Homo sapiens: one gene and its partners. The protein of the gene in region 2 interacts with the protein of the main gene of each other region in a biochemical or structural test. Each region holds a gene or a part of one and is shown on either strand. Other genes may lie near its edges.

Region 1 (8,029 bases), on a different chromosome or scaffold from region 2:
CCAAATGTTTAAGGCTGATCTATTTTATGATGAAAAAGAGTTTAAAAAGCATTATTTCAAACCACACATGTCAGAATAATAGACCGAGGTAGGGGACTGCAATTAGTAAGGAATACCATATCTTGACTTGAGTGGCGGTGCTATGAATGCATATGTTTATATGCAATCTTCATCTAGATTTGTGCATAAATCTATGCTTAAAAAGACTAGAGGACTATAAATCAAGATGGTAATAGTGTTTATCTTTGGAAAGGAAAATCATGAGTAATTTTAGTGGAATAAAATTTTTTACAAGAATTATCTTTACAGTTTGTTGAACTATAAATTTATGCACTTTTCCTTATTTTATAGCTTCAGTAAAGAATTCTGCTGTTTTGTAAAAGACACCTGCTCAAATATCTTTATACAACTCAAGATAGTCTTTCAATAATTTTAAATTAATTTTAGATAATATGATATGACTAAGATTTACTTCAAAATATTAAGGAGAGGGAAGTAGCGTATAGAGCAAACAATAACCATCCATGAATTAATAAGCTAATTTAAACTGAATGATATCTACATGGGGGTTTAAGCAATTTTATATAGTTCTGTTTACATTTGAATTTTTCTGTTATCGTTAAAAAAAAATCATACATATTCCTAAAGCACACATATTCCTAAAGCACACATGTAAGGACTGATTTCATCATACTTAGCAAAGTATTAGTATATTCTTTTGATTTGGAGAAAATGCAAATTGGTCATTAGTTTTTTTTTTTTTTGGTCATTAGTTATTAATTTTACACAGTTAACACTGAAAAATGAATGATATTTAATCATTGTCACTTACTGAGAAGCAAGAACAATGAGTGAGCCCAAAGGAGTCTACTACCATACCTATTAAGTGTAGGGAAGGGTTTAAGTATTTTTTACATACTTTTCTTCTGTCATTGGAAAAACACCACCCATCTGAAATGGACAGAAGAAAATTTTCCCAGGTGTTCTACTCTCATCAGAACAGCTTGGTGCCAGTGACCTCCACACTGTTAGCTGGCTCCCATACTGCTTGAAGGGCACCAGTCAAGAGCTGTCAAAGGGAGTCTCCTCAGAAATCAGCATTTGTGGGAGATCCCACTTCCAAAAAGGTAGTGCAGCAGTGCTGTTTCCGAGCAGCAGTGAATGTGGGGGCTGAAGACGACGCTTTACAGGGCCTTGCTTAGGCCCTGGGGATGGGAGTAAACAGAGTCATGATATGAGGATGTAGTGAAATGAGTTTCTGCATAATCCTGGGTGATATGGTAATGTTTTAAAGTATTCCTTCATTCACTTCCTAAGGACTGAAAGGTAACAAATTAACTTTTAAGCAATTAATATATAATGTACCAAAGTGTCCAAATTTAAACAGCAGGAAATTACAGGGTTGGTGGGTAGTAAATAAGATTTTCAACCCAAGGCTCTGCTAAGTTATTTTTACTTTCCAAACATTTGCTCTTAAGCACTATTAAACAACAAAACTAAAATATTCTAATGATTCTGGTTCTAAAATTTTAAATAAACAAATTAAGGGTGAAAATCTATGCACCTAATTGACTTCACTTGCTCCAGTATAACCACTGTTTACTGTACATTTTTAAAAACTGATCTAAGTGATCACTAAAAGGACAGGAAACCATCATCTTGTCTCAGGTCAAGGAAGCATTTTTAGAAACTTAAGACTGTCTAGATAAGCTGAATTCTCCTATATCATAATTTCCTTGTACAGACAATAAAAATGGAGTTTTCAGCCGATAAACTGCTTTATCCATGACCAAGATTCACATTCTTTTAGTGTAATTCTAAATTCATATTCACAGTACCTTCCATGTACTTCAAACCTTATGACTGACAAGCTTATGTTTAATAGAAGTTAACTATTTTAAAAATGAGCAGTCTTATTTTTAAGATCTACATGAAATCTTTGAGATTTCTACCAAGTGCATTATGAAAGCATGATAACAAAACACAGCATTTGAGGATATTTCTCCATTTTAGAACTCTTTCTGGGCTGGGCGCAGTGGCTCATGCCTGTAATCCTGCACTTTGAGAGGCCGAGATAGGTGGATCGCTTGAGTGCAGGACCTCGAGACCAGCCTAGGCAACATGGCGAAACCTTGTCTCTACCAAAAATACAAAAATTAGCCAGGTGTGGTAACGTGCGCCTGTAGTCCCAGTTACTTGGGAGGCTGACATGTGAGGATCACTGGAGCAAGGGAAGTCGAGGCTGCAATGAGCTCTGATCATGCCACTGCACTCCAGCCTGGGTGACAGAGCAAGACCCTGTCAGAAAACCCCACCTGTTTCTATGCCGACGTGGGCAGATCTTTAATCTTAATCTTAACCTTTAATCTTTAACCTTAAAAGAGGTTTTCATGAAGTGTTATCTTGGGTAGATTAATTTTATAAAAAAGAGGTTTTCAATAAAAGACACACAAGGACAGCCTGTGGAGTGTCTAAATCTACCTCTGGAATTAGAATTTAGGGGATGGGGACATACGTATTTTTAGGAATTCCTTCAGTGGGTCTACTGAGTACAGTCTTTTAAAAACCCTACTGTAAAGTAACATAAAGAACTAGACATTTACAATAACATCTCTCCCTGCATCAAGAGATGAATGGAGCTCAAATGTTGGTTAGGAAAACAAAGTTTCTTTTAAACAAACATGAAACTAATGATTGTATTTTTTTTTTTAAAGTTAAACGTCTCCTCCAAAATTATTCCTTGACCATCATGGGATCACCTCCTTGCAAGAACAGGTAATAACCATTCGTTTCACAAACAATTAGGTTTACATCAACCACATTTCTTCTCAAGACTCAAGAATACATTTTTGTACCTTTACCTGGTGCAGTACATATTAAGAAAAGCACTTCTCTCCAAGCCTTAAACAGAAACCATTAAGGACAACATAACCACTTTTCTTCCAAGTCAACAGTTTTTATACTTATGGCAATTCACTACCTAGATTAGTATTCTTTCCCTAAAATATCCTCATTGTAAACAAAAACTCAAATCAACAGTCTGTAAGAAAGGTTTAAAAAATGTACTTTTAAGTTTTTCTCTCTTGTCTTTTAAAACTACCAAGGACCCAGCTAGTAGAAAAGTTTAGGACTGAGAATGAAAACATCTCAGTGTCAGGACTGCCACTTCGAATGGAGACTCCATGTGCAATAGTGCCATAGTATAGAGCTATCTTTTCCATTTTCATATTGCGCCAACATGTAATCAACTATGGGTACCAGAAACTTTTAAATTTCAAATTTCACTCTTACCAATTTTATACTGTTACCAGGATGAAATGTCACATAAGACTGCATGCAGTTGCATGCTAAGATTGTCACTGACCTAGGAACCAAGTCACTAGAGTCTAACCCAAATTCTGTCATTAGCCAGTTACATATACAATCTTGGGCAAGTCAGGAACTTCTTCAACCTCAGACTGTTTCCAAAGTTAAGAAGGTAGGCAAGAGATGACTGTGGTTCCTTCTAGCTCTGGCAATGTCTAATTCTAAGATCTGTACTTGCCGTCTAGGAATTTTCAAAAACGTCTTTAGTTTCAGTTTAAAAAGAAAAAACAAAGTACCCTTACTGCCATTTCTCAAGCTAACCAGAATGTTTAAAATGCCAAGATTTGTATACCTAAAAAAATAACTAATGATTTCACTTTGGATGCTAAAAGTCAATGTTGGGAAGCCCATGTTGCTCCCACAGAGCTAATTAAAAATAAAACACTTGGGCCGGGCGCAGTGGCTCATGCCTGTAATCCCAGCACTTGTGGGAGGTCGAGGTGGGCAGATCACGAGGACAGGAGCCTGAGATCAGCCTGGTCAACATGGTGAAACCCTGTCTCTACTAAAAATACAAAAATTAGCTGGGTGTGGTGGTGCGTGCCTGTAATCCTAGCTACTCAGGAGGCTGAGGCAGGAGAATCACTTGAACCCAGGAGGTGGAGATTGCAGCGAGCCGAGATCGCACCACCACACTCTAGCCTGGGCGACAGAGTGAGATCCCGTCTCAAAAATAAATAAATAAATAAACAAACAAATACTTGGATGAACTAGCTAACTATGGAGACATCAATGCAAAAAAGACAAAGTTCAATTTCTATATGAATTATTCTTAAACTTTTCTCGCCTATGACATAAGAATACAGTACTTCCAAAAATATATGAAATTCAACAGTGCTTACTACAAAAGTTCTACCACACAGCCCAGATTACATGAGCACATAACAAGTAAAAGTATGTCTTACCTTTAGTCCATTCTGTGGGTTCATTAGAAAATTTCTCCCTATGTCATCAAACATAATGGTGTTTTTCTTGCTGTAAAACTCCGAAAACTTTCCCCATATAACACCAAGAGGCTTTACCTTAGAATAAAAGTTTACATTTAACTCAAATTTTATCAATATTTCATCCTGTCTTAAAAGCAGGAATACTGCAAACTGCCCTGCAGAACAATGCCAAAGTGTTCCTTTCCCCCTGTAAGACAGGTGTGAGCTAATCATTAAATGCAACCCACTTTAAAGCACAATGCATTTTGCAATATTAAAACTTCTGAAAGGTTTGTTCATGTCCAACTGAACTAAACCCATTATAAAACTTTCCATAATTTTAACGTGAAGATTTTGGGTAAAATAAATAAATTATTTAATTTTTTAAAAATCCAAAGTAATTGTTTAGATGTCTGCTATGCAGTCACATGACTTCCTTGGTTAACACATTCCTTCTCAGAGCTTGGGAGTCACATGGAGTCTGCTTTCAAAACTAGAACACCCTAGTCAAAAAAAAACTGTATTTGGCTTTTTCAATTAATAATTTGAATATTTTATAGAGGAAAAACTCGTTTTGTCTTTAACTCAGTGGCACAGGTGCATAATTTCTAGGGAATTTGATTGCTTAACTTCGGAAGCACCATATTTTACAAATTCTTACTCTTATTTCTGAATTCTTAAACTGAAGCTTCAAATAAATAATTTCTTATATAGTCTTACCTGTTGGTATTTGTGTAAAGTCTCTGTAAGACCACACAGGAAATAACACTGATTGTGGCTAGGTACCAGGTGAAAGATGACTTTTCATTATGTACTTTACTATTTTTTTAGTCATGCAAATGTATTACACATTCAGAAAATTTTTTAAATTTCTAGAAAATTACTTTTGCTGAAGACAGAAGTCTTACGGTATTATGAGAACAGAATGTAATAATAAATATATGAGATTAAGTGGTAAGAAATAAATAGTGATAAAAGTTGTAACTTAAAAATTTTTTTCCTCCTATAATTTAATTTGGAGAAAGCTTTTTCCTTCCTATTGTCTTGCCTATTACAAAAAATGTTAATGAAATATTTTAATTTACTAAAATTTTACTTTCCTGATTTTTTTTTGCTACTGATCTTGTTTACTACCGAAATAGAAACCGCCCCCTACTCCCCCCACGAAATGAAGACAAATATATAAGAATTAATACAATAAGCCATATTTTGTGGATTTTTAGCTAACAAAAGCCTCAAGAAATATGACAACAGAGGTCATTTTTTATGACATCCAGAATAAAAATCCTACATCCTCTTAAAAAGTGCTGTCATTTGTTAATTAGGTCAAGCACCTATGTTCCCCAAAACACAAACTACTTTGCTCTCAATTAGAAAAGTAATATTGCTAACTACAGAAAAAAAACATGAAAATACTGAAAAGCATAAAGGAAAATTTTAAATCAATAATCTAGTCAGTACCAAGGGCAACAACTCAATATTCTGATACATTGACTCCAGGCATTTTTATAAACAAGAGCAGCCTCAGAGAGTTGACAGGTTCTTTGTTAAATTAAGGGTAATCCTGAACCAAACAAAGGTTAAGAACTATTTTCTAACGGCTTACAACAGTGTTCTCTAAAATACTTCTTTCACTTAAATGTGTCATGAAAATTTCTAAATCATTACATATCCTACTACATCAAATGACGAGCTACAGTCCCTTATATGGGTAGCAGTAATTTATATATCCAATGCCCTATTGCTGGATATTGAGGATTATTTTTATTCCTTTAATTTTTCACTGTTATAAAACATGTTTAACATTTCCCTAAGTAATTTTTAATGTTAAGATTTTGTAAATGTATTATTTTACTTTAGTATATAGTAAGTTATCTTTTTCTCGATACATGCAGTATTTCCTTTATAGAACAAGTCCCCATGCCCTTAAATCATTCTATTTATGGTTTTGATAATTTTAATACTGTCTCCCCTAAGGTTTCCTCGTATCCTAAGTTCTCCTCAATTCCTATTAGTTTGGGTGCTTTTATTTTACTTTATTTTGTTGAGACAGAATCTTGCTCTGTCACCCAGGCTGGAGTGCAGTGGCTCAATCTTAGCTCACTGCAACCACCGCCCCCTGGGTTTGAGCAATTCTCCTGCCTCAGCCTCCTGAGTAGCTGGGATTACAGGCATGCATTATCCAGCCCAGCTAACAGTTTGGGTGCTTTCAAATGATATGGACTGTGTCTCACTCATCTCTTTATTCCCAACAGTGCCTATCACAGGGCCTTCCAGACAGTAGATACTTAATAGTATGAGTAGTTACTTGATGAGTAAAATAACTGGTTAGCCAAACCCTTTTCTCTGATTGTTCTTGTTGCTATTCTTCAGCATCATCCCAAAGTACATGCATCATGATGCATCTGCTTTTATTACCAGTTTCAAACAGGGCAGGGTGAGTGTTTTCGCTTGTTTCTAGTATCTTCCTTGATAATATTCAGTATTTTTCTCACCTACTCTGCCCAGTAACATTGTGCTGTCATCAACACAGGTCAATTACCCACAATCACAAGTTCCTTTCTTGACAGTCCTACTTCAAGATCCCTAATTTTATCATTAAAATTCAAATCTTTTAACCTTGGCTGGGCACAGTGGCTCACGCCCATAATCCCAGCACTTTGGGAGGCCGAGGCAGGCGGATCACGAGGTCAGGAGATCGAGACCATCCTGGCTAACAACAGTGAAACTCCGTCTCTACTGAAAATACGAAAAAATTAGCCGGGCGTGGTGGCGGGTGCCTGTAGTCCCAGCTACTCAGGAGGCTGAGGCAGGAGAATGGCGTGAACCTGGGAGGCGGAGCTTGCGTGAGCGAGATTGCACCACTGCACTCCAGCCTGGGCGGCACAATGAGACTCCATCTCAAAAAAAAAAAAAAAAAAAAAAAAAAATCTTTTAACCTTAAATACATTTTCCTATGTCAAAACTCAACCACTTTATTATTCACTCAGATGAATCTCTACACTATTTACTCCATAGGTATAAACATAAAAAGTACACTGGAAAATAACCATGGTGTCATTAAATAGAAATAAAATGACTTCTTACGTCTATTAATCCTCTCCTTGGAGTATGTACTGTTATCATAGCAGCACTATCCAACATGAAAGTAATCTTATAATTTGCATTTGTGCTCACTCCCAGCTCCTATAAACACAAATATTTGTGAGGTTAAAACATAGTAGTGTGGAAAATTTCAGATTTTCTGAATATTCTAGCTGCAATTTCTCATAATGCCAACTTTCTACACCACTGGCCACTACATCTTGCTAAACAACTAGGAAGTATTTTAGTTTCACTTAGCCAAGTCAATAAATGGTAAACCAAGGAAAATAGAAATAGATTACTTCCTAATTTACCATTTTAGGAGAATACTGACTCTTTAAGTATTGCACACTAGAGCAAAAGAAGGAAAATAAAGTATTATTGTAAAATGAGGAAGAATGTGGGGGAGGGGACAAGCTTAGTTATACTTTTTCTTAAAAAAGACTTAGGGATTCAGTACAATCCACTTATTAAACACACTTTAAAAACACCTCTACTCCCAATAATGGCATTTATCTATCTACTAAGTGCCCTCCAGTAAGAATAAAATTAATTCAGTTCTAGAACTTTTAACAAGACAAATGCAGTTTGAAAATATTTTTAAATGGATTGCTTTCTAACACTTACTTTCATTTTAGCTTCAATCCACTTCA
Region 2 (8,029 bases):
GTCAGGAATACCTCTCTACTTCACAAGCTTTGGGATAATGATAGCTATTGAAATTGTAACTTAAAAATAATTTTTACCTGTAGTTTTAATAAATGGTTGATATCCTGATATTCTAACTAAACTGACCTTCATCACCTAGGGTCAGAGCACTTACTCTAGGCAGATCAAGCAAGTTGAAGATGACATTCAGCAACTTCTCAAGAAAATTAATGAGCTCACTGGTATGTATTTTTAAATTCCCATTTCCTTCCTTTAAATGTAATGTGTGAATAATATCAAGAGTTTAAATACAGATTTTACTCCTTCATGATTACAGATTTAAAAAAAATCATTATTCTTCCTTTCTGTTAAGAAATTAGATCTCATTTAACCATATCTTTCACTGCTTTTTACAACCAGGTTTAATGCTTATGCAGTTAAGAAATAAGAAATAGTACCATCTTCTAAGCCAGTAATATTTCTGTTGGTCAAAACCCAGTTCAGTAAACTTCAGTTAACAAGTCAAAAAACTTTTTTGGATAAAAATAAGATCTCACAACATAGTTTTGCTTCAAGTAATTGGGCTCTTTCCTGGAACTTTTTGGGGGGAACTTGAATGATGAAGTTTTATAATATTTGACCTACACAAAAATGTCAAATGTGGCATTATATTTTTGGCTTGACAATTACTTTAGGGCAGGGTGTAGTTTTCAGCTGGGGTGATTTTGCCCCACCCTCCCAACCCCTCCCAGAGGACACTGGGCAATGTCTGGAGACATCCTTGATTGTCATGACTTTGAGAGAGGGTGGTGCTGCTGGCGTCTAGTGGTGAGAGGCCAGGGATGCTACTAAACAGTCTATAATGCACATGATAGTCCTCACAATGAATGATTCAGTGCAAAATATCAGTAGTGCTGAGGTTTAGAAAGCTTATTATAGGGTGATGCATTACATTTTAGTAAATTTTGTCATCTTTCTCTATGTAGGTATTAAAGAATCTGACACTGGCCTGGCCCCACCAGCACTCTGGGATTTGGCTGCAGATAAGCAGACACTCCAGAGTGAACAGCCTTTACAGGTTGCCAGGTATGCACGGGTGCTCTGTGGCAACTTACCTTTGTCTGTATTTTCAAGCACTTAATGTTAGAGTCTCAGGGATAATGCAATAGTTCATAAATAATTTTGATTCCAAATTCCAAGTAAATAAAGCTTTCTACAAAACTGGGGTTAAAATTTTATGCCTTAAACAATTCTTCAAAAATATATGAAGGCATAATCATTTAAAAGATTTAAATGATATAAAAAGATGTAGAGCAAGAAATGAAAAACTCCCTTCTCATACTTGCTTTCCCGTTGCCCTTTCCTCAAACGTAACTACTGAAATAGTTTGGCCCTCGTAATCCTCTGTGTATCTTCCTGTATTTGCATGCAAAGAAACATATCCTGATTTTTTTTTTTTTAGATATAACTACATGTTTTGGGAATCTTTGTCTTTAATATAGGTATACTTATTTCTTTTTTCTTGTGTTTTTAAAAAATTGCAAAAATTGCATAATGTGTAGATGTTAGGCTGTAACAATTTCTGTTACTATACACAGTGCTGTAGTGAATATTCGTGTTAAATGTTTCTCAGTGTATGTGCATACATTTCTGTAGGCTAGCTTACTACAAGTGGAATTCTAGGGGTCAAAGATATTATAGTTTTAAAATCCTGTGAAAATTACTTTGGCCAGTTTATACTTTTACCAAGAGGCTTTGAGGCAAATGTCCATTTGTCTGATCAATGTAAGATACGCAGTTTTCAATTTTTACACTTTTGCCATTTGAGGGAAAATAATTTTAATTTGTACTGTGTTGATTACTAGTATGATAGCTACTTCTTTTGTTTACTAAACATCTGTATTTCTTTGACTACTCATGTTTTGTTCTTGGGTTGTTTCTTGTTAATTTTAGAAACAGTTCATATATTGTACATATTGTCTTTTCTTAAGTATGCTACAAGTATTTTTCCCTAGTCACTTTTAACTTCTTGGTACCTTTTGTTGTACTAATGTTTTACATTTTTAGGAGATAAAATATACCAATATTTCCATTATACCTTTTGGGTGTTAATGTTGCTTAGAAAAACCTAGCCCAATTCAAGGCTATAAACATATTCTCCTCTGTTTATAATCCTTTTAAAAATTTTGTTTTTATTTTTAGTTCCTAAAAGCTAAAGATTATTTTTATTTCCCATCTACTCACCCTCCCTACTTCACAATTTCCATCTTTTCTCACTTTTATTTATTCACTCACTTTTTAGTTTTATCATGGTTTTTGAAGGGTTAAATAGTTCAGGCTGGGCACGGCAGCTCACGCCTGTAATCCCAGCACTTTGGGAGGCCCAGGCAGGCAGATGACTTGAGGTCAGGAGTTCAAGACCAGCCTGGTCAACATAGTGAAACCCCGTCTCTACTAAAAATACAAAAATTAACTGGGTGTGGTGGCGGGCGCTTGTAATCCCAGCTACTGGAGAGGCTGAGGCAGGAGAATCGCTTGAACCTGGGAGGCAGAGGTTGCAGTAAGCTGAGATTGTGCCACTGCACTTCAGCCTGGGGTGACAGAGTGATACTCTGTCTCAAAAAAAAAAAAAAAAGAAAAGAGTTAAACAGTTAAATAATAACAACTGTATTTCCCAATTTCTCTTCCCTAATGACACTCATTTTCACCTTTTTTAGCTGATTATTTTGGTTTTCGTCTTCATGGTTCTAATGGATATTGCTATATCTTGTGTATTATAGATTCCTACTTCTTGATTTTTTAGTTTTAGGTATTATCTTTTGGCTTTCCATCATGGAAGATGAGGATTTTGTTTTGTTTCCTCTGCCTTCACCTTGAAGGCACACCTTTCCTATCCCCTCATCCTTCCTATGTAATTCTGTTATAATTTTGGTTAGATCAGTATTCAGTGTTTATATGATTATGGCTATGTAAACACTATTCACAAAGAGCCAAGTGGTAAGCTGTGATTGCTTTTCCTTTCTTGTACCACTTCTTTTAGTGGTGGTTGTTATAACGTCTTGTTTTTTCATTTGCCTGGTTTTCTGTGCATATATTATGAACTCAACCTCCCACTTTCTCTTGATTGTCTAAACTGCTCTTCAGATGCATTAGATCTGTTCGTTTTCTCTCAGTTATACCTTAGTTGCATCTGGTGTTCTCTCGGTTTCATTTTCCTTAAGTTTTTCCCAGCACCTTCTGACCTGCTTTGGTTTGGACCAGTTGTCCTTTATGCCTGTTTAATGACAATTGTTGTCTGACTTCTCTACCCTGGAGATTGCCCTTTACCTCTCTCCTGTTGCTTGGTCTAATACATCCTCTGGTAGCTTCTTGGAAAAGGGTCAGTTGGGAGGTAATATTTTGAGACTGCATATGTCTGAAAGTGTCTTAGCTGAGTATACAGTTCTTTTCCCTTCAAAATTTTGAAGGCGTCGTTCTGTTGTCCTTTGCCTCCCAGTGTTACTCTGAAGCCATTCTGATCCTCAGTCCTGTATATGTGGCCTAATTTTTCTCTGAAAATTGTAGAGTCTTCTCTTGTTCTATTTTGAAATTTCATGGTGATGTGCCTTGGTGTTGGTCTGTTTTCATCCATTGTCCTGGGCTCTCTTGTCCTTTAGTAAGGCAAATCTTCTTGAAACTATTTGTTAATTTCTTTCCTTCCGTTTTCTTGGACCCTTATTCCTGAATTCTCTTATTTGGATATGGGGCCTCCAGGATTGCTCCTCTAATTTGCTAATCTTTCCTTCCTGTTTTTCTTCTTTTTGCCTTTTTACTTTACTTTCTATGAGCTTTTCTTTATCTTTGAATTTTTCTGTTGATGTTTTTTTCCTCCCATTTTTCTTCTCGTAGGTTTTTAATTTCTCAGGTAAAAAAACTCAGGTTTTTTATTTCAAGGCTCTTATCTTTATTCTTTCATTTTTGTGTGTGTGTTGAATGTTCTGCTCTTATATCATGGTTGTAATATGTTCTTATCTCTCTATGGTAAATTAAAAAATCTAGGTACATTTTTCTAGGCCGTATGAGGGGAATTTTCTTTTTTCTGTAAAGCAGTTAGAGGGAAACTTTTCATATAGATTTTTCATAACAGACAGACTAGCTAAAGAGCCCTATACCCCTACAAGATCCCAGGCCTTAAAGAAAGCAAAGATTATTTTGAAAAAGTTTCCATTGATTTTAGTCTCATACTCTTTGCTTAAAACTCTTGATAAAATTTGTGTATGTGTAATTTTTAGCTTGTGAATTTTTTTTTTTTTTTGAGACAAGGTCTCACTTTGTTACCAAGGCTGGAGTGCAGTAACATGATCTCAGCTCGCTGCAGCCTCTGCTTCCTGGGCTCCCACCTCAGCCTCCCAAGTGGCTGGGACCACAGGTGCATACCACCCCATGTCTGGCTTTTTTTTTTTTTTTTTTTTTTTTTTTTTTTTAATTTTTAGTAGAGACAGGGTCTTGCCATGTTGCCTGGGCTGCTCTTGAACTCCTAGGCTCAAGCCATCTGCCCACCTTGGCCTCCCAAAGTTCTGGGATTACAGGTGTGAGCCACCGTGCCCAGCCAGCTTATGAATTTTTTTAATAACAATCTTACTGATATAAAATTCAGATATCATGAGGTTCACTCTTTTAAAGTATACAATTTAGTGATTTTTAGAATATCTAGAAAATTGTGCATTGATCATCACTATCTAATTCCAGAATAGAATATTTTTGTCACCCCAAAAACAAACCCAATACCCATTAGCAGTCTTCATTCCCGTCTCTTTCCAGCCCCTGGCAACCATTTATCTACTTTCTGTTTCTATGAATTTGTCTATCCTGGACATATCATCTAAATGGAATCATATAGTACATGGCTTCCTTCACTTAGCATATTTCAAGGTTCATCCGTATTCTAAAATAGATGGAACTTTTTATGGCCAAATAATATTCCAGTCTAATTTCTCTATCTGTATTCACTATTGGTGAGACATTCTTCTCATCATTCCTATAAACTCTTTAGATATGGTTTCCTTTAGCTTTTTGAAAATATTTCTTGTACTGATTTAAGGTTTTTGTTTGACTGGGCGCAGTGGCTCATGCCTGTAATCCCAGCACTTTGGGAGGCTGAGGCAGGTGGATCACTTGAGGTTGGGAGTTTGAGATCAGCCTGGCCAACATGGTGAAACCTGTCTCTACTAAAAATATAAAAATATTAGCTGGGCGTGGTGGCAGGCGCCTGTAATCCCAGACACTTAGGAGGCTGACGCAGGAGAATTGCTCGAACGTGGGAGGCGGAAGTTGCAGTGAGTCAAGATCGCGCCACTGCACTCCAGCCTGGGCAGCAGTGAGATTCCGTCTCAAAAAAAAAAAAAAAGTTTTGTTTAATAACACCAACATCTAGGCTTCTTAAGGGACAATTTCTATTGACTGATTTTTTTCCCCTTATGTATGAGCCATAATGTCATACATAAGGGAAAATGCATTTCATAATGTTTTGCATCTCATAACTTTTTGGTGATAACTAGACATTTAAAATAATGTAATGTGTCACCTCTGGAAATCAAATTCTTCCTTTCCCCAGGGTTTGGTATTATTGCTGTTTGTTGTTCTTGTTTTTCCTTTCAGGTTTTTTGGTCAGCCTCTTTTTTTTTGGTAGAGAATGGGTATAATTCTTCTTCCCTAGCAAACATGGTTGGTAACAGAAAACAGAGTCCTTCACACAATTATGCTATCAGGACAAAGCATTCTTTTTTAGCCTTGACCTCCTGGGCTCAAGTGATCCTCCAGCCTCAGCCTCCTCAGTAGCTGGGACTACAGGTGCATCCCACCACACCTGGCTAAGCCAAAGCATTCTGTACCTTACTTTTAGCTCTACCTATGTGCGCACTCCACAGGCTATTTTTGTATTTCTCTGTAATTCTTGCTGTGGCTTATGTAGCAGCTTTCTAATGTGAGTTCTGTTTTTTGTTTTTGTTTTTCTTTAGTAGATAGATACTATAGAAGGGGAAAGGCGGTTGACTATTTTATACTGTGATGTGCATGGCATTATAAATTCATTTTTACCAGGCCATATGGAAATGAATATAATTAAGTTAAAAATAGCTTCTACTGGCCGGGTGCAATGGCTCACGCCTGTAATCCCAGCACTTTGGGAGGCCGAAGCAGGTGGATCACTTGAGGTCGGGAGTTTGAAACCAGCCTGGCCAACATGGTGAAACCCCGTATATATTAAAAATACAAAACAATTAGCCGGGCGTGCTGGCGCATTCCTGTAATGCCAGCTACTTGGGAGGCTGAGGCAGGAGAACTGCTTGAACCCAGGAGGCGGAGATTGTAATGAGCCGAGATCGCACCACTGCACTCCAGTCTGGGCTCCAGAGCAAGACTCTGTCTCAAAAAAAAGAAAAAGAAAAAAAAACAAGCTTCTACTGCCTCAGTTAAAAAAAGAAAAAAGTAGCAAAAACAATAAAAATGGATTTAAAGTCCGGGTGTGGTGGCTCACGCCTGTAATCCCAGCACTTTGGGAAGCTGAGGCGGGCGGATCACCTGAGGTTGGGATTTCGAGACCAGCCTGACTAGCCTGAGGTTGGGAGTTCAAGAGAAACCCCCTCTCTACTAAAAAAAAAAAAAAAAATACAAAATTAGCTAGGCATGGTGGTGCATGCCTGTAATCCCAGCTACTCGGGAGGCTGAGGCAGGAGAATTGCATGAACCCAAGAGGTGGAGGTTGCAGTGAGCCAAGATCACACCATTGTGTTTCAGCCTGGGCAACAAGAGTGAAACTCCATCTCAAAAAAAAAAAAAAAAAAAAAAAGAAAAACGGATTTAAAGTATAAACTCAGGAAAAGAATGAAAACCCATTTATTACTGAATTTGGTGTAAGACAAGATGACCATCTTTTTGTAGGGAAAATAAAAACGAGAGCAACTTAAGATATACAGGAGCATCACTAATAATAAAGGAATACAAACTATGGAAATCAAGAAATCAGAGAACTTCTTAATGATGAGATATTTGGGTTTAATTTTCCAGGAGAATGTATTTGAAAATTTTATGACTTGGCTAAAGTCGAATGGACCTTTGGAGTTGGGTATAGAAAAGGATCTTTAACAGTGTCCCAGTTTCTGTAGTTCTAGTTTATACCTGTATATTGCACACTCAGGATATAATCTAGTTAGTTGAATTCATTATTAGTGGCTTAGGTTCCTTATTCTAATCAAGCTTTTTGCTGTGTTAGGTGTACAAAGATAATCAATGCTGATTCGGAGGACCCAAAATACATTATCAACGTAAAGCAGTTTGCCAAGTTTGTGGTGGACCTTAGTGATCAGGTGGCACCTACTGACATTGAAGAAGGGATGAGAGTGGGGTAAGATTTCTATTTACAATAAATACTTTTCTTTCACTAAGGATACTGTCTCACATTCATATCCTTGGCTTTGTAGTGAATAAATGGACTGAGTTCCTTGGAATACCAAAGGATGATCTAGTAATGTACTATAGTTGAAAATTCTGTCTTCTGCATCTGCTTCCTAACTTCCCATCGGCTTCGCTGACTCCCCTACTCCCACTGTTGTTTATTATGAATGGCTTCAAATTTCAGAGTTGAGGTTACCAGTCCATTTAAGGTAACATGGTATAGGTTGGGGGAGTACTTGCTTTAGGATAGTTGTGATGCTAAGTGTGTTAATGTCTATAGAATACATAACAACTCACTTAGTAAATTAAAAAAAAATCTCCCCTCCCTCCTCAAAGGTTTGATTGCTGTTGGATAGGTTGTTTGCGACATTAGACATGTAGTTTAGTATCCTCAGATTTCATGCTCTCTTTATTTCTCTTTATATAATTAGGGACTCTGTCTCTCTCTTGTTTTCTTAAAGTATGGTTTTGGGGATAAAGGACTAAACATAAAAGCACTTTGAAAGCTTAAAGAATGTATTAATGACTATCTTTTTTACTTCCTTAGCGTGGATAGAAATAAATATCAAATTCACATTCCATTGCCTCCTAAGATTGACCCAACAGTTACCATGATGCA
Region 3 (8,029 bases), on a different chromosome or scaffold from region 2:
GACATCTTCTGGTGCAGGCCAGTACAATAAGCTTCAAAGGTTATCTCAAGACCCTGTTGTTGGCTTGATGGTTTTACTTATAACCAGTTTCGATGTTTACCTTTCACAGAATGTCTTATTTGACAGCTTTAGATGACCAATTTAACCAGGCTTATATATGGCGCCAAATACTGGTTTCACGGGAAAGAAGGTCTGATCCTCTTTATGAGCATTTCTTCCTGCTTCCAAAGAATATGTTGTGAAATTAAAGAGGGTGAAGTTTAACTATGGTAGAAGTAGACTGCCAGTCCTTTTCTGGTGTACCATTTTAAAAAAATACAGGCACATAACACTAGCCAAAGATTATACCTTGATTACATTCCCAAAAGGCAGATATGCTGCAAACATGCAGAGATTTCATTTATTTTGTTTGGCACATGGGAACTACATTTTGTTCCTATTATCTGTGTGTTTCACTTTGCTGTGCAGATTTTCATCCAATTTTTTTCAGGGGAGGGCATATACATTTGTAGGGCTGTATCTATCCAATTCTGCCTGTAACAAACACCCAAACATCCTAAAATATCAATTATAAGACAGACAAGTGTAATGTAAAACTCTGGAGAACATCAAAGAAAAATGGCCATGCATCTGCTCTTTAATGTTTTCCTACGATATATTAAAATAAAAACAAAGTTTCAGTCTCTTCACAAGAAGTAATTTATATTCTCTGAATTTTTTCAGCCACAACAACTGGATTCTCTTTTCTGATTTTTGCTGCAGCTTCTGCTTTGTAATCATACGGACAGTTGTGCTTGTCAGAGTAACGGTGAAGTCCACAAAACAAATTTCCACATCGGCAGTCAAACCCTGTACAAACGAAGAAGTAGAGTCATTTGAGAACTTGAGGCAATTAAAAGAAAAAAAAGCCTTAGTCACTATAGAAAAGGAACCAGATTTTCATTGCTTTGTAACATAAAAGACAGTGAACTCTTTTCTTCCACTTCCTGGTGATAAGACACAGTCAACTCTTACAGAGTCTATCACGTTAACCTGGAAAAGGAACTTTTAACTTCCTTTGACATGGTGAGAAATTCAAATAACTATGTTCAGTCTTTCCTTGCAAGGGCAATAGCGAAGTGTTTGGTAAGCCAAACCACGTGGAGAAAACAAAATGGGCTATCTGCCAGCTAATTTCTCCCAGATGCTCTCCCTCTATCGACTCCTGTAGATGCAACGCAGGATAAAATTTACACAGGCTCTGGAGTTAGGCTAAGCTGGATTCAAAACACAGTCCTACCATATCTTAAGTAATGCTTCCTCAAGTGAAAACAACCATCAAGGTCTGAGATTTGAAGGAGACAAGAAAAAAAGCACCAAGAACATTCCCTGCATAGCTCAAAGTAGGTGGCGCTTACTGTTAGTTCAGTAACATTTTCCCTAGGTATACAAAAACTTTTTATCAATCTAATAAAATAAGAGGGCCTGAGTTAATAGTTTTATATGATTAGGAGACAAATGGAAGTAAAACCCAACTTCTTTCCACCCCAATACCACCTCCTCCACCTTTCCTAGACTACAGCTAGTCAGGCTTTTTTTTTTTTTTTATGTGTAAGACCAACTAGTCTCTTAGGGAGTGACCAAAAGCTCCTTGTTAACTGCAGAAGTAAAACATACATTGTCTTGTGTTTTGTAATACCTGTAAGACCAACTTTCTTTCTGCACATGAAACATCTGTTTTTCTTTGGTTTGGGCAATTCAGGAGCTTTTTCTTCACTCTGAGAAGTACTGGGCTGAGAAACTGATGGACTGGGCTGAGTGACAACTGAAAAGGACAAAAACACAAATTTGTCAAGCATTCACTGGCTAACATTTTTAAGTCAAAAAAGGAAGTATTTAAGAGAAACAGGAAGATGCCTGATAAAAATGTTTATAAGTATTCCTTGAAAATACAAGCTTTAAACAGAATCTTCCATTTTAACATCAGAACTTGATTCAAATCTGAGAAATTCCTGCCAATCACCATACTACTTGCTTCTCTAATTTTGTAAAATGATCGCTTCACTCAAGAAATTCCTTTAAAACACTGGTAACAGCCAGTACTAAAAACAAAATCCTAATTCTGTTTTAAAGAGCTGGGAGATGTTAATCATATGCTCAGTTTTTCCACGTTATAATTTCCTAAATGCAAACTTTTCAATCAGGGCAGTTCAAATTCATTACATCACAGTAAATAACAGTAGCCAACTTTGATTTTATGCTTATAGGAAAAAAAATCCTGTAGATATAAAAACAGCAAATTTTGACAAATAAAACTCAAACCATTCATCCCTAAATCAACGTCAGATCCAAAAATTCCAAAACAATCATTTTACCATTTTCACAGGTGCACTAAACATCATAGGAAGACTTGAAAGATTTTTTTAAACCTTGGTTTTAAAAACAGATCGGCAAACAGTCTTTAGAAACTACTCGAGAAGTATTGATTTTAAACTATTAAGGATTCCACAGGCAGAACAAGAATCTTATCTAAAATGGGCATCCACTATCGACAGAGATAGCATCTACAAACAGTCCCACCGTTTCTCCACCTAAAAAGGCTTTAAGTTTCAGTGTACACATGGCATCAATAAAATTTCTCACAATGAACAAAAAATACATTACTGTACTAAAGCCCACACTGCCACTAGTTCTTTAACACAAAAATAACAAAATTTATATCTACTTACATATAATTCAACTACACCTGAAACACTATAAACTCAGGTTTTAATATTAATCCAAATGTAACAATAGCAAATTTATGTATGCAATGCTGAAATTACTGCCCAAATATGCCAGCACCAATGCTATTAGCATATAGACAAGCTCCTACAACAAGCTGATTGATTTAATGGCAATTTTCTCTAAAACTCTGCCCAAATTTATAATTCAATTGCATTAGCAATGAATCTACTGGGAGAAATAGCCTAATATTAGACTAAACGAACAATATTCTACCTACTGCTACTGTGACAACATTAATGTTTATCCTGATGTCATGAGGATAAAGAATAATCTAGGGGAATAGTTGTATGGGGTAGAGGGAGGGTGTCAGCCATTTCTTTGGCCACATCTGAAAAATGAACTACGGCTCCTGAGACAAGGGAAGAAGGGGGAATAAGAAAATGACACAGAAAAGGCAAATAGCAGTGAATCACAGAATGCCTACTAAGTAATAATAAATGCAGACTAGCTCTAACCCAAGACTATTCTTCCAAGGTCAGAGTAATTTTGTATTTAAAAACCAAAACCAAAAACAAAAACCCAAACAAAGGCATCACGGGCAAACTAATGTGGTCAGTTTAAGGATGGAGCTCATTTCAAAATGCCAAATATAGATTCACCTGCCAAACTTGAGAATTTGGCCTTAACTTTGTAAGATTAATACAATAAACAAACTTGACTGCTGTTAGCAAAAGCCAGCCTCCAAAGCAGACTGTATAACCACTGACAGTATTTTTTCACAACAGAAGTTTTATATTGCATTTAATCAGCACTCTGCCAAAAAAGAACAAATTGATAAAATAAGCTACGTGCACTATATAAAGCACAGAAATCTTTTTGTTCTAGGGCCTAGTACAGGTAATTCAAGTCAGTCTTCTTCCACCATCAGGGCACTTCTGGTTGTGCTATATAAGCAAAGTTTCCAAAGTCACCATATCTCATGAAAACCAAAATGCCTTTCCACACTGAGTTTCAAACTCCCACAAAATATGATAGGAATATTGTACTTCAAATAAGTTCTAGTGTTCAAATATGTTGTTCTACTTAAAAGTTTTCCACAACATTGACAATATCAAAACTAAAGTTACTGCTTTTGGTTATAAAATTATTCCTTATACCCTTGAAATTTAACTTCATCAAGTTTTTAACACATCCAATCTCCAGATTACAGACTTTGCCCATTATGCACAAGGGTAGTGCAGGGGATGAGCAGAGAAGAAACTGAGAATAAATATGACTATTTTACACTTCAAGATACTCATACTCAAGATACTTTTAAAGATAGTAGTTCTTTGCTTGGCCTATATTTTATGGCTCTCCCTCCTCTTTGGTCCTTCAATGGGAAGGAAAGAATCCCCCCACCAGCCATTTCTTGCACTATCAAATTCAGAACTGAACAAGTATTAAATGAAAAACATACCTGGCTCTGACACCTCTGTTTTCGGGGTAGTTATTTTGTCCTCTCTTGAAATGCTCATTTCTGTCATTTGCTGAGTTACAGGCAAGGCAGCCACAGGCACATTTCTATTTGAGTTCAAGCAAACAATTTTTAAAGGTGTTAAGGGTACTTCTTGAGACAATGAATAAGTTGTCAGTTCAACTTTAAATTATAGAATATTTCCAAAATGAGCAAATGGAGCTAGATAATCTAAAGTTTAAAAAAAAATTGGATGCCCAGCACAAATGGTTGAGAAAAAAGTTTGATAAATGGCTCATGAACTCGAGGCTGCATTTTGTATAGGTTACCATATTTTACAACCAGCTAGGGATTTTTAGCTGTGCCTGTAACTTGTTTAAGGGCAAAAGGGCAGCTCTGCCAAAACACCTTGTCTGGCCCAATAATATTCTACAGTCTCACTCGACAATCCCTAAACCTCAATTACAAAGAAATAAAAAAGCACAGCATTTCCAACACAGTATCCTTGAGGGGGTTAGGGAGTCAGGTGTAAGTAACACACATCTTTACTCAATGACTTAAGAGTCATGTATTAAAAGACACTGAAATCCTCGATTGCAAAGCCAAGGGTATCTATTAACTTATTATTGGACCAGTACAGACATCTTGATTTCTTCTTTGTAATATCATAAAAACTCTGAAACGTTCAATCTTACCTTGATTTTTCAGATGTGCTGCCAGCAGCACCTTCACAGTTGTTTAAGCTAGTGTCTGCTCTCTGTACAGATGCAGAATCTGAGGTAGGACTGTTGGAACCACTAGCTGTTCCTATTTAAAAAAAGGATTTGTAAGGAACCAATGAACACTACAAAAACTCACTTAGTATCAAGACGTAGTAATAAATACTTGCATTTAATTAGGTTAGTGATATAAGCATTCACTGTGCTGTAATCCTATACTTGAGTATCCAAACAAAAAATATTAAAAAGTCAATCCAATGAACACAAGTGTGAAACAAAATAACCCCAAAAAAGAAAACTGAAAAGCTATAAGATGCTTGTAGATAGTCATTCATTCCTGATCAGTCATGTCAAGCACTTGGGCTGTTGCTTGAATTTCAAGCTCTTATCAGGTGTTCTCTCCATGTGCTTTCAGCATTCTCAGCCCCAATTCTTGGTTCTGTATTTCTGTCCACCAGTTCTTTCAAATGTGTTTTTCCTTGGAAATAACTTACCCATTGGGCTCATTCTGCCACTATTTTGCTGCCTCTGAAGATGTTCTTTGTAGCAAACTGAACACATTCCATTTGTCCTAGGATTTCCATAAAAGCCACATCCTGTGCTACACAGCATGGGCCCCGGGGTCTGGTTAGTCTCCTGAGCCATATTTTTCTGCTATAGATGAAACGAAATTTCAGAAATTAGTGTTATCACCAAAATATAGTCTAATATAATCATCGGTATACCGTTGTAATTGCTACGCAAGTTTTAACAAAAGCCCAAATTCCGTTAATCATTAAAAAGGGTGGGCAGAGATAATTATCAATATTTTGTTGCCTTTATAAAAGCAAACTGTTTTAGGACCAAAAAAAAACCCAAAAAGAAATTTTATCAATTATTAGGGTATTTTTACCTATCACTATTCTTGGTTTCAATTTATGAAAAGGTCTGTTAGCTCTCAGGGTTATGTTTTAATCAATTTGGGAAACTGGTATCTTTAACTTTTCACTCTGCTGCACTACAGGCAGACCATTTCAAATGTTTTTACTTAATTGGCTAATCACAATTATCACTGAGTCTTGATATTTATAGGTAGTTCTTTAAACTGGATGAATAAAGTTTTCTTAAAACACCTGTACATATCTGGGCTTCATCAGTAATTTGACAAATCTGCTGAGGCAGAGCATCTGTACTTTTTAATGCTGAAACATCTTCATATAAGGCTGAAAAGAGAACTGGTAGCCCTTCCTGCTACCCTGGCACCAACAAGTAAATCTCTAAGAATTTAGGGTCAGCTGGTTTACGAAACTCCTTTTACGTTCTCCATTTGAAGTTTCAGAGTATGTCAAAGCCAGTGCCTAGGAACCTGCAATACACAAATTATGAACCAGATTTCTCAGCCAAAGGCACTATTAATTTTAACAAGTGCTTGTCTTCCTCATACCAGAAAATAATAAAACCGTTCCAAGCTCAAATTCAATGTATTAAAGTCAATATATACACATAACCTTTAGTAATGGTTAATATTCAATGCTGGGTTACCAGAAAAAGCTTTACATAGCAAGCATTTGTTTCCAAGGAAGATTTGCTTTTCTAAAAGTCTTGTTAAAACGCTGTGCTAAATTATTAATAAGTTTTCCTCTGGATGAGAAAATACATATTAAAGAAAAATTATTTTAAAATAAAGTTGTGGAGGGTTTTCATGTCATCTTAAACATGTATAAGCATATGTACAAAAAGCATATTTGAGAGCATTTGCTTAAAGGAAAATTCGTGTGCTGTAACTTGTGGTCAGTCATTTTTTCCAACTACATACTAGAATACACTTTTTAGTGAGTTATTAAAAAACGATGTTTTAACAAGTATTAACTACCAAAATTAGAAGATGGGAGAAGGGGACTAACCAATTTTGACCTGGCCAGACCCCTGGTAATTATTCCCCAAAACATTTTATCTTCCCTTTTGTAAGTAAAAGTGCACCATACAAATATTAAGACAATCTAGCTTGTGTGGAGTGACCAAGATCCACAACTTACTTTTAACAACAGTATTAATTTAGTTGACACTGTCTCTTTAAATATTAACTGGAATTTAGCTGACTCATTTTGGAGCAGGGTAGTGTAAACATTTCAACATCACTTAGGAAGTTTATTAATAAACACTTTCAGCTGGGTTTTTAAATGAGCATAATAGGAGCAAAAAATGCTTTCAAATGATAAATATGTATGTATTTGCATGCCCACCACGCACAAAATATGTGTGAATGTTTGCCCTATGCATGAAAGTTGGGTCACTCCTTAAAACCAGTTTAAGTATGCTAGCTTACATTTTCTACACTGAGGCCCAGTCTCATGTGACATTGGCTTTAAAGTTTAAGGCCAAGCGATCAACCTACCTAAGTAATTTTAGTTAATCTGATTCTTAAAATATTTGTTTTAGATAAAATGGAGGATACTCCATCTAAAGATTTCACACACTCAGAGATAACAAAGTATTCCAACTTTGCTTCAGAGAACATGTCTACCTTCATTTCATTATAAATAACTTTCAACTGCGAGACACACAAGAGGTACCAGGACATGAGTCTTCTACATGGGTTCCCATCTTTTAGATTTTTTTCCCCTAGAAAGCCAGCTTTTAAATGCCATCACATGTGCACAGCTTGCTTTAATATTTCTCAGAAGCTCAGATCACATGGGAGGGCGCTTCAGCCTGTCACAAGGCTGCAATGTGACAAGCTGAGCTGGATGGAGGCTCTCACATAAAGCCTAGTCAACAGGGGCCTCTGAAATCAGCTTCTATTTATATCTCAAAGCCTGCCAACTCCTACACAACCCCAAGAACTAAGGATGCAGCGTTCATATATCTAACATAAGAAAACAAAAAAAGGGCTGCTAGTTTTTTCCTAATGTAGGAAAAACTACAGAACAATCTCAATCTAGAAGATGAAAGCATAGTCAAAGCTAAAATGGTCAAGGTTGTTGATAAAAAACTAAGCACAGTGGAGACAGTGTAAAAAAGAATCCTCATTTAGTGAGGATTTAGGGGATGAAGTGGGGGATGTGTGTTCCCATTAGGTATTGCATTCCCCTTGTATTTTAGAAAAAAATACCATTACTATTTATTGCCTTTAAAGTAATTAGCAACTTGAGCATGCACGTGTCAGCTC
Region 4 (8,029 bases), on a different chromosome or scaffold from region 2:
TCTCTATTAGAGACTTTGCCCAGGTTGCAATCTCATGACTGATGTGTGTCCTGAAGGAGGGATCTTTAGAAAATTGTTCAAGTTACATCGTGACAACATACTGGAACTTGGGAAAGCCCCACATGACAATTCAGCTACTTTCAAGTGACTCTGTTCCATGTCCCTAGGCCTGTGTGCTCTTAAAAAGTTGCAATCATGTGGTAACTGCCATTTTGAATTACTAATATTTTATCATATTCATTTATTTTGGCATTGTTAAATAGCAACACTATGGCATGATAGAAAAAACATGGGCTAGGCCGGGTGCGGTGGCTCACGCCTGTAATCCCAGCACTTTGGGAGGCTGAGGTGGGCGATTCATGAGGTCAGGAGTTCAAGACCAGCCTGGCCAACATAGTGAAACCCTGTCCCTACTAAAAATACAAAAATTAGCTGGGTATGGTGGCATGTGCCTATATTCCCAGCTACTCAGGAGGCTGAGGAAGGAGAATTGCTTGAACCTGGGAGGTGGAGGTTGCACCACTGTACTCCAGCCTGGGCAACAGAGTAAGACTCTGTCTCAAAAAAAAAAAAAAAAAAGAATATGAGCTTTTCAAAATGAGGAAGACTTGGCTTGCATGCCTCTCTACTATTTATTAGCTGTTTGGCCTTGGACAGATAATTATAAGCTTTCTACATCTCAGTTTCCTCATCTCTCAGAACAGTAACTAAAAAAGATATTGTGCCAGGTGCAGTGGCTCACAGCCTGTAATCCCAGCACTTTGGGAGGCTGAGGCGGATGGATTACCTGAGGTCAGGAATTCAGGACCAGCCTGGCCAATACGGTGAAACCCTGTCTCTACTAAAAAAATACAAAAAATTAGCTGGGCGTGGTGGTGGGTGCCTGTAATCCTAGCTACTGGGAAGGCTGAGACAAGAGAATTGCTTAAACCCGGGAGGTGAAGATTGCAGGGAGCCAAGATCGTGCCATTGCACTCCAGCCTGGGCAACAAGAGCAAAACTCCGTCTCAAAAAAAATAAAAAGATATTGTAAGAATTAAGCTAATTGACCATAGAAAGCAGTACAATGGCTGACATAGGTTCTCAAAGAAATGTTAATTCCAGTCTCTTCCACCCGCTATTCCCTAAATCCCCTTTAATATCTGCCAAATGTTCTTTTGTTGATATTCCACAGTTTACTAATACCTCCTCACTGTTGAACAGTTGATTTGCTTCAAGTATTTTGCTGTTATGATAGCATTATAGTTATCTTTGTGTATATAGGTTTTGATTTTTCTTATCTTAAATGATTTTCTGATTGTCCTGTGTTCTTTAAACATGGCTGAATTTATTAAACCCATATGAGTAAATCAGTCACTAGTTACATTGCTTCAGTGCATTTGAGTGTCTCAACCTAATGAGACAATTAATTTTGTTAATTATTTTTTAGCATTGTATCAAATTTTGTGACATAGAAAAAAACCTGTAAATGGTCAGTCAAAACAGTTTAGGATCAACCACCAACTAAATAAATTTTTTAGTTATTTTCTTTGATCATGGTTGGATATGAGATGATACCAAAGAATTATTGTTAATTTCTTAATATGTGGCAGTGGCATTATAATTGTGTAAGGAAACATATGTGTTTTGTAGAGATGCATACTAAAGTATGCAGGGGTAAATGGCAGGGTGACTAGGATTTGCTTTAAAATAGTTCAGCAAAAAGTAGGGAAAAGAGATGAAATAAGTAAAGCAAAATCTTCATAACCATAAAATCAGGTTATGTGTATATGGGGGCTTATTGTATTCTCATTACTTTTGTGTATGATATTTCAAAATAAAACACAAATTTAGAAAATATTTTAGGAAGCAGCTAGGTTATAGTGGAAACAATAGTGGACTTCAAATCAGAAGGTCAAGATTTAAATCTAAACTCTGCCTATAATAACAATATGATTACAGAGAAGTCACTGCAAATTTCTAGGCCTTAGGGCTTCATGTGAAAAGAGGAGCCAAGATTATTGACCTTTCGAATGTGATAAGAAGAATTAAATAAGATAACCTGTATGAGAGCAATTTATAAACTATGCAAATCCTGTGCAAAATCTCCTTGTTTTTGTCCTTCTGACATTTTAGAGCCACCTGTATAGAAATGGTGACATCACTGGCATATACTCATCATGGGCGACAATATCTTGCTCAAGAAGGAGTAATTGACCAAATTTCTAATATAATTGTTGGGGCAGATTCAGACCCTTTCTCTAGCTTCTATCTGCCAGGTAAGGAACACTGATGCCTATGGAAATGATGGTGCGTGTTTTATTTCTGAGTTATCTCTGACATCAGGGGGTTGGGGTAGGGAGTGGACAGGGATTGTTTTCCTTTAGAGCTGATTTCCTTAATGAGCTGATTTCGTTTAGAAGATATCTAGAGCAACCAAGTTCAAATTCAACAGCACATTAAAAGGGTCATCCACCCTGATGAAGTGGGATTTATCCTATGGATGCAGGGAGGGTTCAGCATATACAAATCAATAAATAAGATATACTATGTTAACAGAATAAAGACAGCAACCAAGTAATGCGGGAAAAGCATTTCACAAATTTCACCTTTCTTTTATGATAAAAACTCTTAACAAATAAAGTATAGAAGGAATCTATCTCAACACAATAAAGGCCATGTATGACAAACCCACAGCTAACATACTCAGCGGTGAAAAGTTGAAAGCGTTCCTCTAAGATCAGGAACAAGGCCGGGCGCAGTGGCTCATGCCTGTAATCCCAACACTCTGGGAGGCCAAGGCAGGCAGATCATGAGGTCAGGTGATCGAGACCATCCTGGCTAACACAGTGAAACCCCATCTCAACTAAAAATACAAAAAATTAGCCGGGCATGGTGGTGGGTGCCGGTAGTCCCAGCTACTCAGGAGGCTGAGGCAGGAGAATCCTTTGAACCTGGGAGGTGGAGATTGCAGTGAGCCAGGATCGCGCCACTGCACTCCAGCCTGGACAACAGAGTGAGACTCCATCTCAAAAAAAAAAAAAAAAAAAGATCAGGACAAGGATGCCCACAATTACCACTTCTATTCAGCAAAGTACAAGAAGTTATAGCCAGAGCAATTAGGCAAGATAAATAAATAAAAGGCATCCAAATCGGAAAGAAAGAAGTGAAAATTTCCCTGTTTGCAAGTGATGTAATGTTTTATTAATATATAGAATAAAGTTTCCACCAAAAAACTGTTAGAATGAATAAATAAATTCAATAAAGCTGCAGGATACAAAATCAGTGCATAAAAATCCGTAGCATTTCTATACACTAACAGTGAACTCTGAAAAAGTAATCAAAGATACATTCCCATTTACAATAGCATTCAAAAAAAATTAAATATTTATGAATAAATTTAAGGAGGTGAAAGATCTGTACACTGAAAACTATAAAAACTGATGAAGGAAATTGAAGAAGACACAAATAAATGGAAAGGTATCCTATGTTCATGGATTGGAAGGATTAATATTATTAAAATGTTCATGCTGCCCAAAGCACTATATAGATTCAGTGCATTCCCTCCAAAATTTTTAAATTTAATGACATTTTTCACGAAAGCAGAAAAAATAATTTTTAAATATACATATTTCAGAATACATTGTTCACAATAAAGATATATGATTTTTTGTCAGTTAAAAGTTAATTTTTTTAAAAAGATACCTATAGCCTCTTATTGAGGTGGAATCTGTTGCTCTTGGAGCTACGTACTGTTGACTTTGGTTTTCTGGAAACATCAGTGCTATTTAGAACATTAGGATATTTTTCTTTTTGAATATCAACAAAAACATAAATAAAAATACTAGTAATGACATTTACAGTATGTTTCACAGATTAATCACATCTCTGAGTGGGAGTCTTTATCTGTTGTAGGATCTACTCTTGCCATTCTATTCTGGGTTTTGGTTGATTAGTCTTTCTTGAACACTTCCAGAAATTGGAGATGTATGCCTGCCTTAGGTAGCCTAGCTTATTTTATTAATGAACATATCCATTTAAAAATTTCTTCCTGGTAATGAGTCTAAACTTGCCTTCCTGTAATTTGTATCCACTGGTCCTTTTTCTTTGTTCTCCCTCTTGCATATGCCAGTACTTCAATAGCTGGTCCCAGCTCCATTGACGCCCTCTCTCAGGATCACACATCACAGGTCCTTCAGAATCTCCTAATGGTCTCTCTGATCTCCAGGCAACACACTACTCTAACCTTTCTATGCTTTTCTGGCCTGCAGTTCATTTCTGTTCCTGTGAAGTCATAGAGCCCGCAATTCATGCTGTCTTGTTCCCCTATTAAAATATATTTTTGTAAATCTCTTTAGGATTCGTGAAGTTTTTTGGAAACCTGGCTGTCATGGATAGTCCTCAACAGATCTGTGAGCGTTATCCTATCTTTGTGGAAAAAGTCTTTGAAATGATAGAAAGTCAGGACCCCACTATGATTGGTGTAGCTGTAGACACAGTTGGAATCTTGGGATCCAATGTTGAAGGAAAACAGGTTTTACAGAAAACAGGTTGGTATGACTTGGCCCTGTTCAGGGATATCTTAATCTTTGACAGGGGTTCAATATGTAAGTTCATTTGCTGGTGGGTTAACTACATTGTAGAAACTATTTTATGGGTGGCAGTCTTGTTAACCATGACCTTGTACTCATGTCTGAAAATCTAATAATTATTACGGAAAACCTTTTTTTTTTTTTTTTTGACTTTTCACTGGTTTAGGTTTTCATTGGTTTAGGTTTCTACCAATCGATTTCAACCAAACATTGTTTCCTGTTTCCCCTCTATGATGTCTTCTTTGACTAGATTTCATGGTACAAAGACCACGGGCTAGAGTCAGAAAGGTCTGGATTCATGTCCTTGGGTTTTCTATTCTTTTTTTTTTTTTTTTTTTTTTTAAGAGATTGAGAGTGTCTCTCTGTTACCCAGGCTGGCCCCGAACTCCCGGGCTCAAGCAATCCTCCTGCCTCATCCTCTTGATTGGCTGGGTCTACAGGTCCACACCATTGTATCCAGCCCTGACTTTGCTTTTTGAACTTCATTTACTCACTTCACTTTTCTAGGCCTCATTTTCTTCATTTATAAAAATGGCATAACAACTGCTTCTCAGGGTTGTTGTGAATATTTATGAAATTTTGAGAAAGGAAAATAAAAGTTTGTTATAAGATTTCATGTTAAGAGATACTTTTGGCATGTTAAGAGATACAATGGTTCATGCCTGTAATCCAGCACTTTGGGAGGCTAAGGTGGGTGGGTTGCCTGAGCTCAGGAGTTCAAGACCAGGCTGGGCAACATGGCAAAATCCTATCTCTACTCAAGAATACAAAAATTAACCAGGCATGGTACTGCACAACTGTAGTCCCAGCTACTTGAGAAGCTGAGGAAGGAGAATCTCTTGAACCTGGCAGGTGGAGGTTGCAGTGAGCTGAGATCATGCCACTACACTCCAGCCTGGGTGACAGAGTGAAATTCTATCTCAAAAAAAAAAAAAAAAAAAGAGGCCAGGTATGGTGGCTCATGCCTGTAATCCCAGCATTTTGGGAGGCCAAAGCAGGTGGATCACTTGAGGTCAGGAGCTCGAGACCAGCCTGGCCAACATGGTGAAACCCTGTCTCTACTAAAAGTACAAAAATCAGCCAAGCGTGGTGGTGCATGCCTGCAGTCCCAGCTACTCGGGAGGCTGAGGCAGGAGAATGGCATGAACACAGGAGGTAAAGGTTGCAGTGAGCCGAGATCACACCACTGCACTCCAGCCTGGGCGACAGTGCGAGACTCTGTAAAAAAAAAAAAAAAGAAAGAAAGAAAGATACTTTTATGGAACATCCATGAGGATCAACAGCACAACAAATTTTACACACAAAATAATATGCAGCCCAATTATTAAAATTCTTGAGACACATATGTTGAAAATTATCTCACCTGTAATCCCAGCACTTCAGGAGGCCAAGGCGGGAGGATCGTTTGAGCCCAGGAATTCAAGACCAGCTTCGTCAACAACAACAACAAAAAAAATTAGCCAGCTGTGGTGGTGCATGCCTATAGTCCCAGCCACTCGGGAGGCTGAGGTGGGAGAATCATTTGAGCCCAGGAGGTGAAGGCTGTAGTGAGCCTTGATCACTCAGTTGCACTGCAGCCTAGGTGACAGAGTGAGACCCCATCTCAAAAAAAAAATTTAAAAAGAGGCCAGGCGAGGTGGCTCATGCCTGTAATCCCAACACTTTGGGAGGCCAAGGTGGGTAGATTACCTGAGGTCAAGAGTTCGAGACCAGCCTGGCCAACATGGTCTCTACTAAAAATACAAAAATTAGCTAGGTGTGATGGCAGGCGCCTGTAATCCCAGCTACTCGGGAGGTTGAGGCAGGAGAATCGCTTGAACCTGGGCCGTGAGTCGAGATTGCGCCATTGCACTCCAGCCTGGGTGACACAGCAAGACTCCATCTCAAAAAAATAAAAATTAGAAAATAGAAAAAGAAAAAAAGAAAATTAATACGCTGTTGTGTATCACAGCTAATATTTTTGTTATATGTCGTTTTCTAAGTGCTTTTACCTATGACAATCGTTTTACAGTCCTGCAAAGAACATACATTGTCATTTTCATTTTCCAGATAAGGTAGATGAAACTTAGAGGAGTTAAGAAAATTTCTAAGGTCATACAAATTATGGCAGCTGCTACTCAAGTCCAGGTCCTTTGATTCCAGTTTTATAACTTTGCCTTATATATGCTGTGTTGCGTGTAATTATGTGTTCTAGGCCTGTCACTGGTTCTCTGACTACATGCTTATTTTTGTATTGGTTTAGGTTGGTAGAGGTCATAGTGTATGAGAGCATACTTTAAAAAAATCTCATTTTTCACTTCATATCCATTAGGATGGCTATTACTTTAAAAAAAAACCCATAAAATAATAAGTGTTAGGATGTGGAGAAATTGTAACCCTTGTACATTTTATATTTCCTTCATCCAGCAGCTCCACTTTCAGGTATATACCAAAAAAAATTGAAAGCAGAGACTCAAACAAATGTTTGTACAGTCATGTTCATAGCAGCGTTATTCACAATAACCAAAAAAAGGTGCAAGCAACCCAATGTTCATTGATAGATGAATCAATAAACAAAATGTGGTATATACATACAATTGAATATTACTCAGCCTTTAAAAAGAATGAGATTCTGGCACATGCTACAGCATGGAGGAAGCCTGCGCCACTGATAACATTATGCTAAGTGAAGTAAGCCAAACACATAAGGACAGATATTGTATGATTCCACTTAGATGAGATGCCTAAAAGAGTCCAGTTCACAGGAGGTAGAATAGTGGTTGGCAGGGGATGAGGGTAGAGAAGAAAGGGAATTATTGTTTGATGGATACAGAGTTTCAGTTTGGGTTGATGAAAAAGTTCTAGAGATGGATGGTTATGATGGTTGCCCAACAGTGTGAATGTACTTAATAGCACTGAACTATACACTAAAAATGGTTAAAATGGTAAATTTTATGTTGTGTATATTTTACCATAATAAAGAAGAATCTCACTGTTATCCTTCAAAGGAACTCGCTTTGAACGCTTGCTTATGAGAATAGGACATCAATCAAAGAATGCCCCAGTGGAGCTAAAAATTAGATGTTTGGATGCAATTTCATCTCTTCTGTACTTACCAGTAAGTAGGTAGGGAAATAATGAAGGACAGTGGGATATGTTTGGGAGAATAAATCTGTATGAATCAACATGATAAATGTGATGAAGTAAATACAAGAAGATAACCCTCATTATATGACTAGTGACATTTTTAATTTAAAATGGAATCATAGAGTGTTAGAACTGAAGAGACTCTAGAGACTGCTTAATCAACCACATTCAAAGAAAACTGGGAAAGGTCTGGGCTGGATTTGAGAAAGAGTCCTCCAGACTTAGCCAGTTTCACACAACAAATTAATGACAGAGTGCCATCAGCACTCAGGTGTCTGACTTCTAAATAAGTGCTTTTCTCCAGATCAGTTAACTTTTGATGAGATTTTCCT

Evidence for each region.
Region 1: the proteins of PSMC2 (region 2) and UBLCP1 form a complex in vitro, tested with the Homo sapiens proteins (one study listed by BioGRID).
Region 3: the proteins of PSMC2 (region 2) and ZFAND5 are reported together in a solved structure, tested with the Homo sapiens proteins (one study listed by BioGRID).
Region 4: the proteins of PSMC2 (region 2) and PSMD5 form a complex in vitro, tested with the Homo sapiens proteins (one study listed by BioGRID).

What each region holds. Positions count from the first base shown.
Region 1 is NC_000005.10:159,274,597-159,282,625, reverse strand, and holds part of UBLCP1 (ubiquitin-like domain-containing CTD phosphatase 1), read right to left. Parts: coding exon 8,004-8,029; intron 7,479-8,003; coding exon 7,380-7,478; intron 4,389-7,379; coding exon 4,272-4,388; intron 1-4,271. UniProt on the Homo sapiens protein: Dephosphorylates 26S nuclear proteasomes, thereby decreasing their proteolytic activity. Recruited to the 19S regulatory particle of the 26S proteasome through its interaction with 19S component PSMD2/RPN1.
Region 2 is NC_000007.14:103,354,729-103,362,757, forward strand, and holds part of PSMC2 (26S proteasome regulatory subunit 7), read left to right. Parts: intron 1-139; coding exon 140-221; intron 222-965; coding exon 966-1,065; intron 1,066-7,228; coding exon 7,229-7,360; coding exon of another isoform or gene 7,361-7,364; exon of another isoform or gene 7,365-7,739; intron 7,740-7,957; coding exon 7,958-8,029. UniProt on the Homo sapiens protein: Component of the 26S proteasome, a multiprotein complex involved in the ATP-dependent degradation of ubiquitinated proteins.
Region 3 is NC_000009.12:72,355,253-72,363,281, forward strand, and holds part of ZFAND5 (AN1-type zinc finger protein 5), read right to left. Parts: intron 5,536-8,029; 5' UTR 5,527-5,535; coding exon 5,376-5,526; intron 4,970-5,375; coding exon 4,858-4,969; intron 4,270-4,857; coding exon 4,166-4,269; intron 1,805-4,165; coding exon 1,679-1,804; intron 850-1,678; coding exon 701-849; 3' UTR 1-700. UniProt on the Homo sapiens protein: Involved in protein degradation via the ubiquitin-proteasome system. May act by anchoring ubiquitinated proteins to the proteasome. Plays a role in ubiquitin-mediated protein degradation during muscle atrophy.
Region 4 is NC_000009.12:120,820,994-120,829,022, reverse strand, and holds part of PSMD5 (26S proteasome non-ATPase regulatory subunit 5), read left to right. Parts: intron 1-2,115; coding exon 2,116-2,258; intron 2,259-4,337; coding exon 4,338-4,529; intron 4,530-7,558; coding exon 7,559-7,668; intron 7,669-8,029. UniProt on the Homo sapiens protein: Acts as a chaperone during the assembly of the 26S proteasome, specifically of the base subcomplex of the PA700/19S regulatory complex (RC).